4 linked regions of the Homo sapiens genome follow. The protein of the gene in region 3 purifies or fractionates together with the protein of the main gene of each other region. This does not show direct contact. Each region holds a gene or a part of one and is shown on either strand. Other genes may lie near its edges.

Evidence for each region. Proteins that work in one complex are often made in the same cells at the same time.
Region 1: the proteins of CDH2 (region 3) and PCDHGB1 purify together in Homo sapiens (co-immunoprecipitation; one large-scale study listed by IntAct). This does not show direct contact.
Region 2: the proteins of CDH2 (region 3) and NAA25 purify together in Homo sapiens (co-immunoprecipitation; one study listed by IntAct). This does not show direct contact.
Region 4: the proteins of CDH2 (region 3) and TSPAN14 fractionate together in Homo sapiens (co-fractionation; one large-scale study listed by BioGRID). This does not show direct contact.

The regions. Positions count from the first base shown.
Region 1 is NC_000005.10:141,353,099-141,356,598, forward strand, and holds part of PCDHGB1 (protocadherin gamma-B1 isoform 1 precursor), read left to right. Parts: intron 1-1,922; exon of another isoform or gene 1,923-2,009; coding exon of another isoform or gene 2,010-3,500. Other genes in the region: PCDHGA4 (protocadherin gamma-A4 isoform 1 precursor), read left to right, coding at 2,010-3,500. UniProt on the Homo sapiens protein: Potential calcium-dependent cell-adhesion protein. May be involved in the establishment and maintenance of specific neuronal connections in the brain.
Region 2 is NC_000012.12:112,070,784-112,074,283, reverse strand, and holds part of NAA25 (N-alpha-acetyltransferase 25, NatB auxiliary subunit), read left to right. Parts: intron 1-2,219; coding exon 2,220-2,389; intron 2,390-3,500. UniProt on the Homo sapiens protein: Non-catalytic subunit of the NatB complex which catalyzes acetylation of the N-terminal methionine residues of peptides beginning with Met-Asp, Met-Glu, Met-Asn and Met-Gln. May play a role in normal cell-cycle progression.
Region 3 is NC_000018.10:27,995,631-27,999,130, forward strand, and holds part of CDH2 (cadherin-2 isoform 1 preproprotein), read right to left. Parts: intron 1-3,500. UniProt on the Homo sapiens protein: Calcium-dependent cell adhesion protein; preferentially mediates homotypic cell-cell adhesion by dimerization with a CDH2 chain from another cell. Cadherins may thus contribute to the sorting of heterogeneous cell types.
Region 4 is NC_000010.11:80,509,810-80,513,309, reverse strand, and holds part of TSPAN14 (tetraspanin-14), read right to left. Parts: intron 1,167-3,500; coding exon 1,041-1,166; intron 1-1,040. UniProt on the Homo sapiens protein: Part of TspanC8 subgroup, composed of 6 members that interact with the transmembrane metalloprotease ADAM10.

The DNA of each region.
Region 1 (3,500 bases), on a different chromosome or scaffold from region 3:
AGATAGATGGAGATTGCTTTCTTGATTGCTCAGTAGTCTTGGCAATTTAATTTTCAATCTTTACTGTTGGCATTTCTGTATGGTTGGCAAATCTTGCTAAAGAGACCTGTTTCCTAGATGTTAACACTTAGTAATAGCAGTGCCTTTTCTTAGTTGATATGCAATACTATATTTTCAAGTCATTTTATTCTTAGCTCTTTATAAATGTATTTAGAGTTCTTCCCACCCAAGTTAAAGTTCATCAATTACATTAATTATGTAATTGATGTAATTATGTATTAATGTAATTATGTAATTAATGTAATCTTCATCAATTACATTCTAGTTTGTCTTTTTGCAGCAACATGTATGTTTAATACAGCCTTCCAATTATTAAGACTCTTAACACTTTGTCTCATCACAAGTAGCAAATATTGTCCAATTTTATATTTGCATCACTAACTTTGAGTCAATATTATTCCCACTCTATAATTTCAGTCAATGATATTTCATAATTTTCTTAACCATTCCTAAATTATTTGTTTTTATGCTCTTTCTATTTTGTCTCTATTAAAACAAAGAATGTAATGAACATTTGGGTTTATAAAGCGTTTTCCATACTTCTTGTTTCTTTAGTGTAGATTTCTGAGGAATTAGTTAAATCTATAAACATGTTGAGATTTTTTTAATGCATACTGTCAAATTTATTTCCAAACATCTTATTTCACCTCTCAATCATCCGCAGTTTGTGCGGTCTTTGAGGATTGTGAAAAACACGTTTAATCTACTCTCTCAAAGTCTGAGGGTTTTTAAATTCTGTATAGCTAATGCCCTTTTGTATGAGTCATTTCTACTGCTAATTGTTAAGTGAGGAATAAGCTTAAGAACTGATGTACTGCTTTATCTCAAATTTTCACAGATTAGTAAATTACTGTAAGTATTCATAAGAAAGAAAGCGATGGCACATGCAATGATAATCCATGTTCGGCTACCAAAACATTTCCTTTTACTGGCTATTTCTAAAATGAGAGCTAAAGTAAAGTTAGAAATTGTAAAATAATACTGAATGTGTCATGTGAAAAAATCACTAAACTATTATCTGCACTTTATAGTTATTCAGTCTAACTTTTCTTTTTATTTCTTTTTTATTTTTAAGATCAGAGTTATTTACCCATTGTTTTAGGCTTTGCATTTGAACTGGTCATTCATGAAACATTGAAAGGTTTCATAAAAATTACTACTCTATGAAAGGTATTGTTCTAAAGATTGAGAACACATTGTGAACAAGATAGTCATATGCATAGCTTGTGGCCAAGAATCTACTGTACACAAAATTAAGGAGCAAATTCTCTTCCCAAACCTATTATCCTATTTGTCAATCTCATTTGTACAGGGTAAGGCTAACTCTTGAACAGTAGGTGAGTTTTTTGCAAGGGAATTGAAGCATTGCCCCAGGTTCTAGAGGGTCAACTCCTGTGAGGAAACTTGTTACTGCATAAATTGGGACTAAAGCCAGACCTCCAAGTTCCTGTCCCACTGTCTTTTCACTTATCTGTCTCATCCATTTTTCAAGTCCACCTTTGTCTTTAGGAGAGATAATTATGTCCCTCACACAATACGCTATACTGAGAATGGGCTGTGGGGATGAACAATGTGAAAACTGAAAAGAGGAAGAACACATCTTAGGAAAAAAATCGTCATATTTTCTCTAAGAAAATAAATAACTTCATAAAGTTTATTGTACAGGAAGACTTGGATCATTCTTGAATTTTCATTGCAAATCAAAAACAGGAATTTGACTTTATTATCTTGGGAGAAATAGGAATAGAAAAGTGTATAAAAAATAAACTTTTTTTAACCAAGAATAAATTGCAGTAACAGGTTAAGACTCTGGGTGTCGCTGTTCACCAATCAGGGGGAAAAGACAAACCAGAAATTTAATCAGAATCACAAGATTTCTGCAGCACAAAGCACTGGCTCTGGAGCTTTATGAAAGCTTCAAGCGGAAGCCCTGAGAGCTCTGGCTGTGAATGCACTTTATTTTGGACCCAGAAGATCCTGGGGCTCCTCAGGCCTCGACAGAGGGAAAACCGAAGCACAGGCGACTCCGCGGCGGGGTTGTAATGGCGGCGCCTCCTGCTCGCCCAGACCACACCCGGCTGCTCCAGATCTGCCTTCTCCTGGGGGTTCTGGTGGAAATCAGGGCCGAACAGATTCTCTACTCGGTGTTTGAGGAGCAGGAAGAAGGCTCAGTGGTGGGCAACATCGCCAAGGACCTGGGGTTGGCGCCCCGGGAGCTGGCGGAGCGCGGAGTCCGCATCGTCTCCAGAGGTAGGACGCAGCTTTTCGCCCTGAACCCGCGCAGCGGCACCTTGGTCACCGCGGGTAGGATAGACAGGGAGGAGCTCTGCGACAGATCTCCAAACTGTGTGACAAACCTGGAGATTCTTCTAGAAGATACAGTGAAGATTTTGCGGGTAGAGGTGGAAATAATCGATGTTAATGATAACCCACCCAGTTTTGGGACAGAACAGAGGGAAATAAAAGTTGCTGAAAATGAAAATCCTGGGGCAAGATTTCCTCTTCCTGAAGCTTTTGATCCGGATGTAGGTGTAAACTCCCTGCAGGGTTACCAGCTCAACTCAAACGGTTACTTTTCCCTGGACGTGCAAAGTGGGGCCGATGGGATTAAGTACCCAGAGCTGGTGCTGGAACGCGCTCTAGATCGCGAGGAAGAGGCGGTTCACCACCTCGTTCTCACGGCCTTCGATGGAGGTGACCCGGTTCGCTCTGGCACTGCCAGGATTCTCATAATACTTGTGGATACCAACGATAATGCTCCCGTGTTCACTCAGCCCGAGTACCACGTAAGTGTTCGTGAGAACGTTCCTGTAGGCACTCGGCTACTCACCGTAAAAGCCACTGATCCAGATGAAGGAGCCAATGGAGACGTGACGTATTCTTTCCGGAAAGTAAGAGACAAAATATCACAGCTATTTCAGTTGAATTCTCTGAGTGGGGATATAACAATATTGGGGGGTCTAGATTATGAGGACTCTGGATTCTATGACATAGATGTAGAAGCCCATGATGGGCCTGGTCTCCGAGCTAGAAGCAAGGTACTGGTGACAGTTCTGGATGAAAATGACAACGCACCAGAAGTCACAGTTACATCTCTCACCAGCTCAGTCCAGGAATCTTCTTCCCCGGGTACAGTAATTGCACTTTTCAACGTGCATGACAGTGACTCAGGAGGAAATGGCCTAGTCACATGTTCTATTCCAGATAATCTGCCATTCACACTTGAAAAGACCTATGGAAATTATTATCGGTTGTTGACACACAGAACACTGGACAGGGAAGAAGTCTCAGAATATAACATCACTGTAACTGCCACTGACCAGGGAACTCCTCCACTGTCTACAGAAACTCATATTTCACTGCAAGTGATGGACATCAATGACAACCCACCCACTTTCCCTCATGCTTCCTACTCTGCTTACATTCCTGAAAACAACCCC
Region 2 (3,500 bases), on a different chromosome or scaffold from region 3:
CTGCAACCTCTGCCTCCCAGAAGCAAGCGATTCTCCTGCCTCAGCTTCCCGAATAGCTGGGACTATAGGTGCCCACCGCCGTGCTCAGCTACTTTTTGTATTTTTGGTAGAGACGGGGTTTCACCGTGTTGGCCAGGCTGGTCTCAAACTCCTGACCTCAGGTGATCCACCCATCTCAGCATCTCAGCCTCCCAAAGTGCTGGGATTACAGGTGTGAGCCATTGCGCCCGGCTTAATTATTCTTATATTTAATATAAAAATGGGATTGTATTAGACACGATTTGCAACCTGTTATTTTTCAGCCTTGAAATATATCTTGAACATCTTTCATTTCTGGTACATGTAGATCTCTTTCATTTTTTTTCCCCCCAGTGGCTTAAGAGTACTCCAGATGTACCATAATTCATTTAGCATTTTCCCTATTGATGATACTTGGATTTTTGAAGATCTCTTTTTTTTTCCTTTGTCCTTTTGTTATTGGCTATTGTAGGCAGTACTACAATAAATTTTTTTTCCTTTTTATAGGCATCTAGAGTTAAATGAATAAATGGGGCCGGGCACAGTGGCTCACGCCTGTTATCCCAGCACTTCGGGAGGTGGAGGCGGGCGGATCACAAGGTCAGGAGATCAAGACCATCCTGTGAATGGTGAAACCCCATCTCTACTAAAAATACAAAAAATTAGCTGGGCGTGGTGGCGGGCGCCTGTAGTCCCAGCTACTCTGGAGGCTGAGGAGGGAGAATGGCGTGAACCCGGGAGGCGGAGCTTGCAGTGAGCCGAGATCGTGCCACTGCACTCCAGCCTGGGCGACAGAGCAAGACTCCCTCTCAAAAAAAAGTGAATAAATGGGATCTTTTAAAAAATTAATACAGAAGTAAAATTCAAGATGACAGTTATGAGCTGATGCTTGCTTCGTAATATTAACTAGGTTACCTAATTTTTCTCAGTTTTCATTCTTAAAGCAATAAAATGTACAAGACCCCATCTCAAAAATATATGTGTGTGTGTGTGTGTGTGTGTGTATTTAATTTTTAATTTTTGTTTTTTTTGAGACAGGGTCTCACTCTGTCACCTAGGCTGGAGTGCAGTTGTGTGATCTTGGCTCACTGCAACCTCTGCCTCCTGGGCTCAAGTGATCCTTTTGCCTCAGCCCCAAAAGCAGCTTGGGACTACAGGCATGAGCCACCACGCCTGGCTAATTTTTGTATTTTTTGTAGAGATGGGGTTTTACCATGTTGCCCAGGCTGATCTTGAACTCGTGAGCTCAAGTGATCCACCTGCCTTGGCCTCCCAAAATGCTAGGATTACAGGTGTGAGCCACCGTGCCTGGCCTTTTTTTCTTTTTGAGATGGGGTCTTGCTCTGTCACCCAGTCTGGAGTGCAGTGGTGTAATCTTGCCTCCCACTGTAATCTCTGCCTCTCAGGCTCAAGTGATCATCCCACATCAGCCTCCCAAGTAGCTGAGACTACAGGTGTGTGCCACCACAATTGGCTGCTTTAAATTTTTTGTAGAGATGGGGTCTCCATGCATTGCCTAGGCTGGTCTCAAACTCATGGGCCCAAGCAGTCCTCCCACCTCAGCATCCCAAAGTGCTGGGATTTTAGGTGTGAGCCACCACACCCAGCCTTATATTTTTATTAGGCAATTTTTTTTTCTTTTCTTTTTTTTTTTTTTGAGATGGAATCTCTCTCTGTCACCTAGGCTGGAGTGCAGTGGCGTGATCTCAGCTCACTGCAACCTCTCCCTCCTGGGTTCAAGCGATTCTCCTGCCTCAGCCTCCTGAGTAGCTGGGACTACAGGTGCATGCCACCACGCCCGACTAGTTTTTTATACTTTTAGTAGAGATGGGGTTTCACCATCTTGGCCAGGCTGGTCTCGAACTCCTGACCTCAAGTGATCCGCCCACCTCAGGCTTCCAAAGTGCTGGGATTACAGGCGTGAGCCACCACGCCCAGCCAGGCAGTATTTCATATATACAAAATTATGCATTCTTTTTTTAAAAAGGTAAGTTATGCTGCAGTAATCAAATGCCAAAATTGAGAGTAATCTTATAACATGTTATCTGTTAGAATATGTTCATAGTTCTCTTTTATTCCTTTTTCTATTATTTTATATTATCAAAGTCGTTTTTCTCTTTTTAAATGAGTTTGGCTTGACTTTAAGCTTCGGGAAGGACAATAGAGGCAATAAAATTCCTTTTTCATGTGCTTTTCCTCAGCTCTTTAGAAGGAGAAGTACATTATTCTGCAGAAAAAGCTGTGAAGTTTATAGAAGATCGGATAACGGAAGAATCTAAAAGTTCTCGCCATCTCCGAGGACCACATCTAGCTAAATTGGAGCTGATTAGGCGTTTACGAAGTCAAGGTTGTAACGATGAGTACAAACTGGGTAAGAAACCATGATATCTGGTAAGCCTGGAGAATGCCCTTAATACCCAAGTGCTATATTCATTAGTTGAGATCTACACTGGACAGAGTCATGTTTGGGAAGCAGATGTCTTCATAGCCTGAAAATATTTGCTAATGAATGGATCACTTATAAAATTAGTCCTTTATCATATATTCACCTTGGCTTAACATTAACTTATCTCCCTGTTCCGTCAGAGTCTTTGTCAGGCATTCTGTTGCTGACCCAACAATAAAGTCAAAATCAGCTGGTTGCGGTGTCTCACGCCTGTAATCCCAGCACTTTGGGAGGCTGTTGTGGGTGGATTGCTTGAGCTCAGGAGTTGGAGATCAGCTGGGGCAACATGGTGAAACCCCATCTACAAAAAATACAAAAAAATTAGCTGGGCATAATGACGCACATCTGTAGTCCCAGCTACTCAGGAGGCTGAGGCAGGAGAGTCTCTTGAGTCCAGGAGGCAGAGGTTATAGTGATCTGAGATCGTGCCTTCACTCCAGCCTGAGCGACACAGCCAGAACCTGTCTCAAAAATTTAATTTAAAAAAATAAAAAAACCTGGCTGGGTGCATTGGCTCACACCTGTAATCCTAGCACTTTGGGAGGCCGAGGTGGGCGGAACACCTGAGCTCAGGAGTTCAAGACCAGCCTGGCCAACATGGCCGTAACCCCGTTTCTGCTAAAAATACAAAAAATTGGGTGGATGTGGTGGCTCATGCCTATAATCCCAGCACTTTGGGAGGCCGAGGTGGGCGGATCACCTGAGGTCAGGTGTTCAAGACCAGCCTGGCCAACATGGCCGTAACCCCGTTTCTCCTAAAAATACAAAAAATTGGGTGGATGTGGTGGCTCATGCCTATAATCCCAGCACTTTGGGAGGCCAAGGCGGGCGGATCACCTGAGGTCAGGTGTTCAAGACCAGCCTGGCCAACATGGTGAAACACCGTCTCTACTAAAAATACAAAAATTAGCCAGGCATGGTGGCACACGCCTGTAGTTACAGCTACTTGGGAGGCTGAGGCAGGAGAATTGCTTGAACCTGGGAGGTACAGGTTGTGATGAGCTGAGATCTTGCCGCTGCACTCTAGCCTGGGTGA
Region 3 (3,500 bases):
GTCTACAAAAATCTTTAGAATTATGTAAGCATAATACATCCAATAATTTTCCATTGATCTGCAATATTGGAATTAGTAGCTAATACTTGAAATTTCTTATTGCTGCAAGCTAGTCTGGAAATTTTAAATTACAAAAGGACACTTGTTATTTCCAAAGTACAATATCTCTTCAAATAAAAAAAAAATTCCACTTGGTAAATAGTAAATAATGTCATCTCCATTTTCAAATGCCAGATTGCTAAAACATTCTTATATTTAGTAAGGAAGGCTTGATAGCCTGTGTTTTAGACAACTGAACTGCTTAGAGCTTCTTGCCTAATTTGGTCATTGGGCATCTGGCTGTGAATGACTGACATTTAGATTCCGTTAAGTGTTCGACTTCCCACTCTCATAGTACCTCAGCTGATCAAGGGGATTCTGCTTGAAAACTTCTCCTCCCTTCCTGCTCTATATGGAATAAAATCCAAAATCATCTGCTTGCTGTCAATCCTTCCCTCTCCGAAACTCGCCTATTTTACAAAAGTGATTCCTCCCATTCGCTTACCCCACACCTGGAGCTGTTTTGCATTTATCTTCAAATGCCCTGTCATGATCCTGTGTCATTCCATTTGGCATTCTCCTCTGCCTAGACAAGTGGATGTTACACAGAGTGAACATTTTGGGTTGTTACAACTAAGCACTCCTTAGTTGTGACAACCAAACTCAGTACCGACATCTAATGGGTAGAGGCCAAGGATGCTGCTAAACAGCCTATGATGCACAAGACAGGCCTCATAACCAAGTAAAAATGTCATAGTGTCCTGGCTGAGAAACCCTTGCCTAGAATACCATTCCCTTCATTCCAAGCCTGGCTAACATGCAGCTTACAAGTCACTTTGGAGACGACTTCTGAAAGTTCTTGAGGAAGAGCTGTTTGTGTCCTCAGGACAGAGCCCTTACAACACACCCCATCACTGTTTATAGTTTATATGGCTGTTATCAGTCGTATGTCTGTATCTGCCTCACTGTGCATGTGTGTGCATACAGAGACACAGACACACACACACGTGTCCCAAGGGCCCTTGCTTTGTTGATGCTTGTGCCACTGGCATATATGGCACAGTGCCTGACTCAGAGTAAGAATTCCACAAATGCTTCTGACTTGGTGGATGGATGGGTGAATGCATAAGAAACCTTGGGTTTTGCATGATCTTATCTCAGGTAAAGAAAAAGCCATCTTCTATTCACATGGATAGCTATAATTTACTTCTTAAAACCCATACTGGGAGCATAAACTAGCTCACCTTTTCCCAAAACCACAGTGATTCATGCACAGTAGTCCCAATTCTAACATTTCCTCATACTATGAGTCACTTCCTATTTATATTGACATTAATTTCCCTTTTTAAAGCTTAATTTATTGTAAAAGTCCCATAAATGGAAAGCTAGCATCAGTTATCATAAATATGACAGTAAAAAATAAACATGATGAAATTCTTGGATTCTGGCAGTCTCTACTTGATGAAGTAGCACGTGAAAGGCTGTGTCCGCTTGCTGTCCTAGAGGCTTCTCAGCATTTACCAATTAAAATCTTATGCACGTGCAGCACAATTTTGAAACACTGAGTGACATCAGTGAATGAGGAGGTGAGAACATTCAGTCATTCATACAGCAGACATTTAATGAAATGTCTTCAAAATGCCAGGCAATGGAGTATTTACTTGGGTAAAACAGTGACCAAAACGAGATACAGCCTTGCTTTCACTAAGTGATGGAGGCAGAGAGTAAAGGATCACAGGACCATATAGAGCCACCAAATGCATGAGTGCAAGTCTAGAAATGGTAGGAAGAAGTAATATGAAGAACCTTCAATAGTGCATACCAACTATCAGGTTGGTGCAAAAGTAACTGCAGTTTTTGCCATTACTTTTAATGTCATTACTTTGAGTAAAAAGAGAAGAACTTGATGACTAAACAGATTGCAGGTAGAGGGACAGCAGGGCATGGGAAAGGCAATTAAACGATGACCTTGGGAGACTGAGGAGAAGGTCCTGGTCACGTGAAATAGGAAATTCATCATAAATCACGGGTTTCAGGAGATGACAGATTTGCCTCTAGATAAATTGGGTTGGGGACAGAGAGTTGAATAACAATGTCACCGAAACTTAGGAGGGAAGTATAGATTTGTGACTCTGTTCAAATTCTTTTTTTTTTTGAGACTGAGTCTCACTCTGTCGCCCAGGCTGGAGTGCAGTGGCACAATCTCGGCTCACTGCAAGCTCTGCCTCCCGGGTTCACGCCATTCTCCTGCCTCAGCCTCCCGAGTAGCTGGGACTACAGGCGCCCGCAACCACGCCTGGCTAATTTTTTGTATTTTTAGTAGGGATGGGGTTTCACCGTGTTAGCCAGGATGGTCTCCATCTCCTGACCTCGTGATCCGCCCACCTTGGCCTCCCAAAGTGCTGGGATTACAGGTGTGAGCCACCACTCCTGGCCAACTCTGTTCAAATTCTTAACTGCTAAGCCCCACTTCCCTCATCTGTGAAATGGGACTAAAAGTACCATCTACCTTATAAATGTGGTCTTTCTTTTGTATACATATTACATGCTGGCACTGTTCCAAGGGCCTTGATTTAAAAACAAAAAACAACTTTTATTGAGTTTGAGCACTATGTGCCCAGCACAGTGCTATGCACTATGCATTATTTCAGTTAGTCCTCACAATAATCCTATGAGGCAGGTGGGGTTTTGAAACCCCATTTTACAGATGAGGAAATGGGCTTAGGAAGGTAAAGGAGCTTGCCATGGACACCCAGCCATAAGAGGCAGATAATAGACTTGAACTCAGGTATGGTCAAGAATCTGTACCGTTAACCAATCCACTACGTGAGTGCCCTCTAAGATGGTAAGAGTACTGCACACATGCAGCATGTGCACAGGTCAAGCGGGGGAAGCAGGTGGAAAGCCGGACTTCAAGTGGACAAGGAAGGAGTGGAAGTATTTTTTGCTTGTTTGTTCTTGAGACAGGGTCTCATTCTGTCACACAGGCTGGACTGCAGTGGCACGATTATGGCTCACTGCAGCCTTGACCACCCAGACTCAGGTGACAGGTGATCCTCTTACCTTAGCCTCCTGAATAGCTGGGATTACAGGCATGCACCACCACGCCTGGCTAATTTTTTGTATTTTTAGTAGAGACAGGGTTTCGCCATGTGGCCCAGGCTGGTCTCAAACTCCTAGGCTCAACTGATCTGCCTGCCTTGAGTGCTGGGTGCCCCTTGGAGAAGACTGGTGTGGAACTCAGGTAAAGTATAGTAACTTAAACATTTCTTTACAATTCATGTTCAGGGTAATGAGACAAGGAATATCTGCCCCACTGGATGTTGAGAATGGGAATCCAGATATACTTTCTGTGTAACACAGTCTATATAGAGGTATGCAGAGACTACTGTGGGTGATCAGAGAAGGGATTGAGAACTGGCTCTCAGAGGGTAAGGATTAGCCTGTTATGTAGGAGAACA
Region 4 (3,500 bases), on a different chromosome or scaffold from region 3:
TCAGTTCAGGCAAAATTCAGAGCTCCTTCACAGTTCACCCCAAGAACCCAGCTTCTGGAACCCAAGGACGTTGGCCTTGGATTGGGAATGCCAATAGGTAAAGAAAGGACAGGACAGGCACAGCGGCCCACACCTGTAATCCCAGCACTTTGGGAGGCTAAGATGGGCAGATCGCTTTGAGCCCAGGAGTTTAAGACCAGCCGGGGCAACATGGTGAAACCCCATCTCTACAAAAAATACAAAAATTAGCCAGGTGTGGTGCTCAAGCCTGTGGTCCCAGCTACTTGGGAGGTTGAGGCTGGAGAATTGCTTGAGCCCGGGGAAGCAATGGTTGTACAGTGAGCTGAGATCGCACCACTGCACTCCAGCCTGAGTGACAGAGTGAGACACTGTCTCTAAAATAAAACCAAACAACAACAACAACAACAACAACAACAAACAGAAAATAATTAGCCGGGTGTGGTGGCGTGCACCTGTAATCCCAGCTACTCAGGAGGCTGAGGCAGGAGAATCGCTTGAACCCAGGAGACAGAGGTTCCAGTGAGCCAAGATCATGCCACTACACTCCAGCCTGGGCGACACAGCAAGACCCTGTCTCAAAAATAAAAGAAAGAGAAAAAGAAAGAAAATAATTCTCCACTACTGTTCCCCAGTTAATGATGTGTACCCACAGCCCCCGTGCACTGTTGAGTTCTAGGAATCTGCTCCAGAAAAAGGACAGGGAAGAGGGATAAGCGGGCCTTATTTCACTCATAGCTCTTGGCCAGCTGCAAGTGACAGCCCTCCAGGTAGAAATAATACTGTTTTTCTCCTGCCTCACCCAGAACACCAAGGCCAGGGTGGGTCATGCAAGCAGTGTTCCTAGAATGTACACATATCGGATTTCAGAGCTGAGGCAGCCTTGAGGAGGGTGTGGAGAAAGCACACCTGCTCCTCAGACCTCCATGACAGAGAAGTATCCTAGAGCACTGGAGGAGTCAGGAAAGCTTCTGGGCTTCAGGAAGGGCGGGCTCCCTGTGCCCCAGCACAAGCCAACTCACCGCAGGATCTGGCACGCAGCAGGAGAAGGGGACCCCGCACTTCTCTCGGCTGTAGCTGGCACCGCTGCAATTGAAGTAGACGTTGAGGTCCCAGTCTTCAGGGCCATATGCGCCACAGCACTGGTTCTGCAACCACAAAAGCCAGAACTGTTAGGGGCTCCAAGACAGGGCCATGGCTGCCCAGCATAGGGCATCATTCATAGTGATGCCAGGCTAAGTCTGCCGGCATCTACCATGCAGAGAAATCAAGGCCCGCCCCCTACCTCCCATGTGCAGAGATGCTAAGCTGGCAACCCAGGCAGCCCTTTAAGAAGAAAACAGCTAGGCGTAGTAGCTCAGGCCTGTAACCTCAGTGACTCGGGAGGTTGAGGTGGGAAGATGGTTTGAGCCCAGGAGTTGGAAACAAGTCTGGGCAACACAGCAAGACCCCCACCCCCAATCAGAAAGAAAGAAAGGAAAGAGAGAGAGAAAGAGAAAAGGAGAGAAAGAAAAAAGGGGAGAGAGAGAGAGAGAGAGAGAGAGAGAGAGAGAGAGAGAGAGAGAGAGAGAGAGAGAGAGGACCTGCCCTTTTGATGTGTTAAAGAAAATAATAACAAAAAGGAAATGGCAGTGAAGGTATCTCCGGGCCACGGTGCCTCCTCTGTCCAACCCACATGGCTGGCTCAGTGGAGCCCTCTGGCCCCACTGCCAGGCACAACATACCCAGCCCTGGCCCTCCTTAGCAGGGAGCTTGCTCTTCTTCCCAGCCTCCTCAAAGGAGACGCCTCCTTCCAGCCTCCTCAGACAGGAGAGTGGCGTCCTCTCCTTTGTGGCCCCCTCGGCACCTTGGTGTGGTCCTCTACTTGCCACAAGAGAACACTTCCTAGTGTGCAGTGTTCTTCCTCCCTGAGAAACTTGCAAGTGAATTCCCCTTTTCACCCCTTTACAAAAAACAGCTGCTAAGTGTCTGCTCCTGAGGAAAAGAGGTCCGATGAAGGTGAAAGGTAACACAATCAAAGCTCTGCCCCACACCTGGGGCCTCTGCCCTCCCCTTCCTCGCATCTGGTGTGGCTACAAAGAAAATCCTTATTTGACTAAAAAGTGTGTAAAATCCAAACACTGAAAGCATCATTGTGAAGTTGACAGTGTCTTTTCCCCTAAAAAACTTCTTTGCATTTGCCCTTACAGCTGACATGGTTATGGCAATAATCACAACAAATGACAACAGTGATTTCTGGTTGGTTATTTTGTTTTGCTTACTTCTCAGGTAAAATTGTCTCCCCCACACCTCCACGGTTCCACTTGCTTTAGTGATTACCTGAAATTTCACTCCAAGGAAGCTCTGTAATTTACTGAATCCCTCCCCTGGGAAGTTTTGTTTTGTTTTGTTTTAATTTATTTATTTTATCTTTTTTTTGAGACGGAGTCTTGCTCTGTTGACCAGGCTGGACTGCAGTGGCGTGATCTCGGCTCACTGCCAGTTCCGCCTCCCGGGTTCACACCATTCTCCTGCCTCAGCCTCCCGAGTAGCTGGGACTACAGGTGCCCACCGCCACACCCCACTAATTTTTTGTATTTTTAGTAGAGATGGGGTTTCACCATGTTAGCCAGGATGGTCTCGATCTCCTGACCTTGTGATCCACCCGCCTCAGCCTCCCAAAGTGCTGGGATTACAGGCGTGAGTCACCGCGCCCGGCCAGAAGTTTTATTTTTAAAAGAAAAAGAAGTCAATGCAGAAAACTATGTTTTTAAGGCAATGCAGGGATGAACCGCAACCTAGCATGCTGAGACCAGGCAAGCCAAGGCTACGTGAAAATGAAAAAAGGACGGTGGCACTGAACAGAAAAGAAAGGAGAGGCATCAAAACATGGCGGGGATTTGGTGACTTTCACAGACTAATACACATTAGTAATAACAATACAGGCAGGGTCTTTGGTCCCATAAATGGGTTTTGCTGGATCCCATAATACATGAAATAAAGGTGAACAAGTTTTGGTTAATAATGAGAGTGAATCATAGATTTTTAATGGTTTCTGATTTATTTTCTTCTCAAAACCAAAGTGTTCCACATGAAAAGTTCTTAAGGAAGCTGGGCTTTCTGTCAGCACACAGATCAAACAAGAGCCTTGCATTGCACAGGCTGACATGGCCAAGGAGTGGGTTCCTCCCCAGGGGGCTGTGACAGCTATGGTCCAAGCGTCCAGGTGCAGCCACACATGAGAGAGATAAGAGGGATGGGGACCAGATGGAGTAAAGGCCATAGCCTGGAACTGCTTAGACAAACCCCTGGGCACATATTCCAGGGAGGTCACATTCCACTAGATCTGACAAAGCTTCCTCCAGGCAGCCCTGGCTTCTTAAACAGGAAGGGGAAAAGGTCCCAGGGAGGAAGGGGAAAAGGTCCCGGGGAGGAAGGGGATAGGAATAGCGTCAGATGGTGAGTCATGAGCCGGGGGGAAGAAGCTGTGCCTTACGGTATGC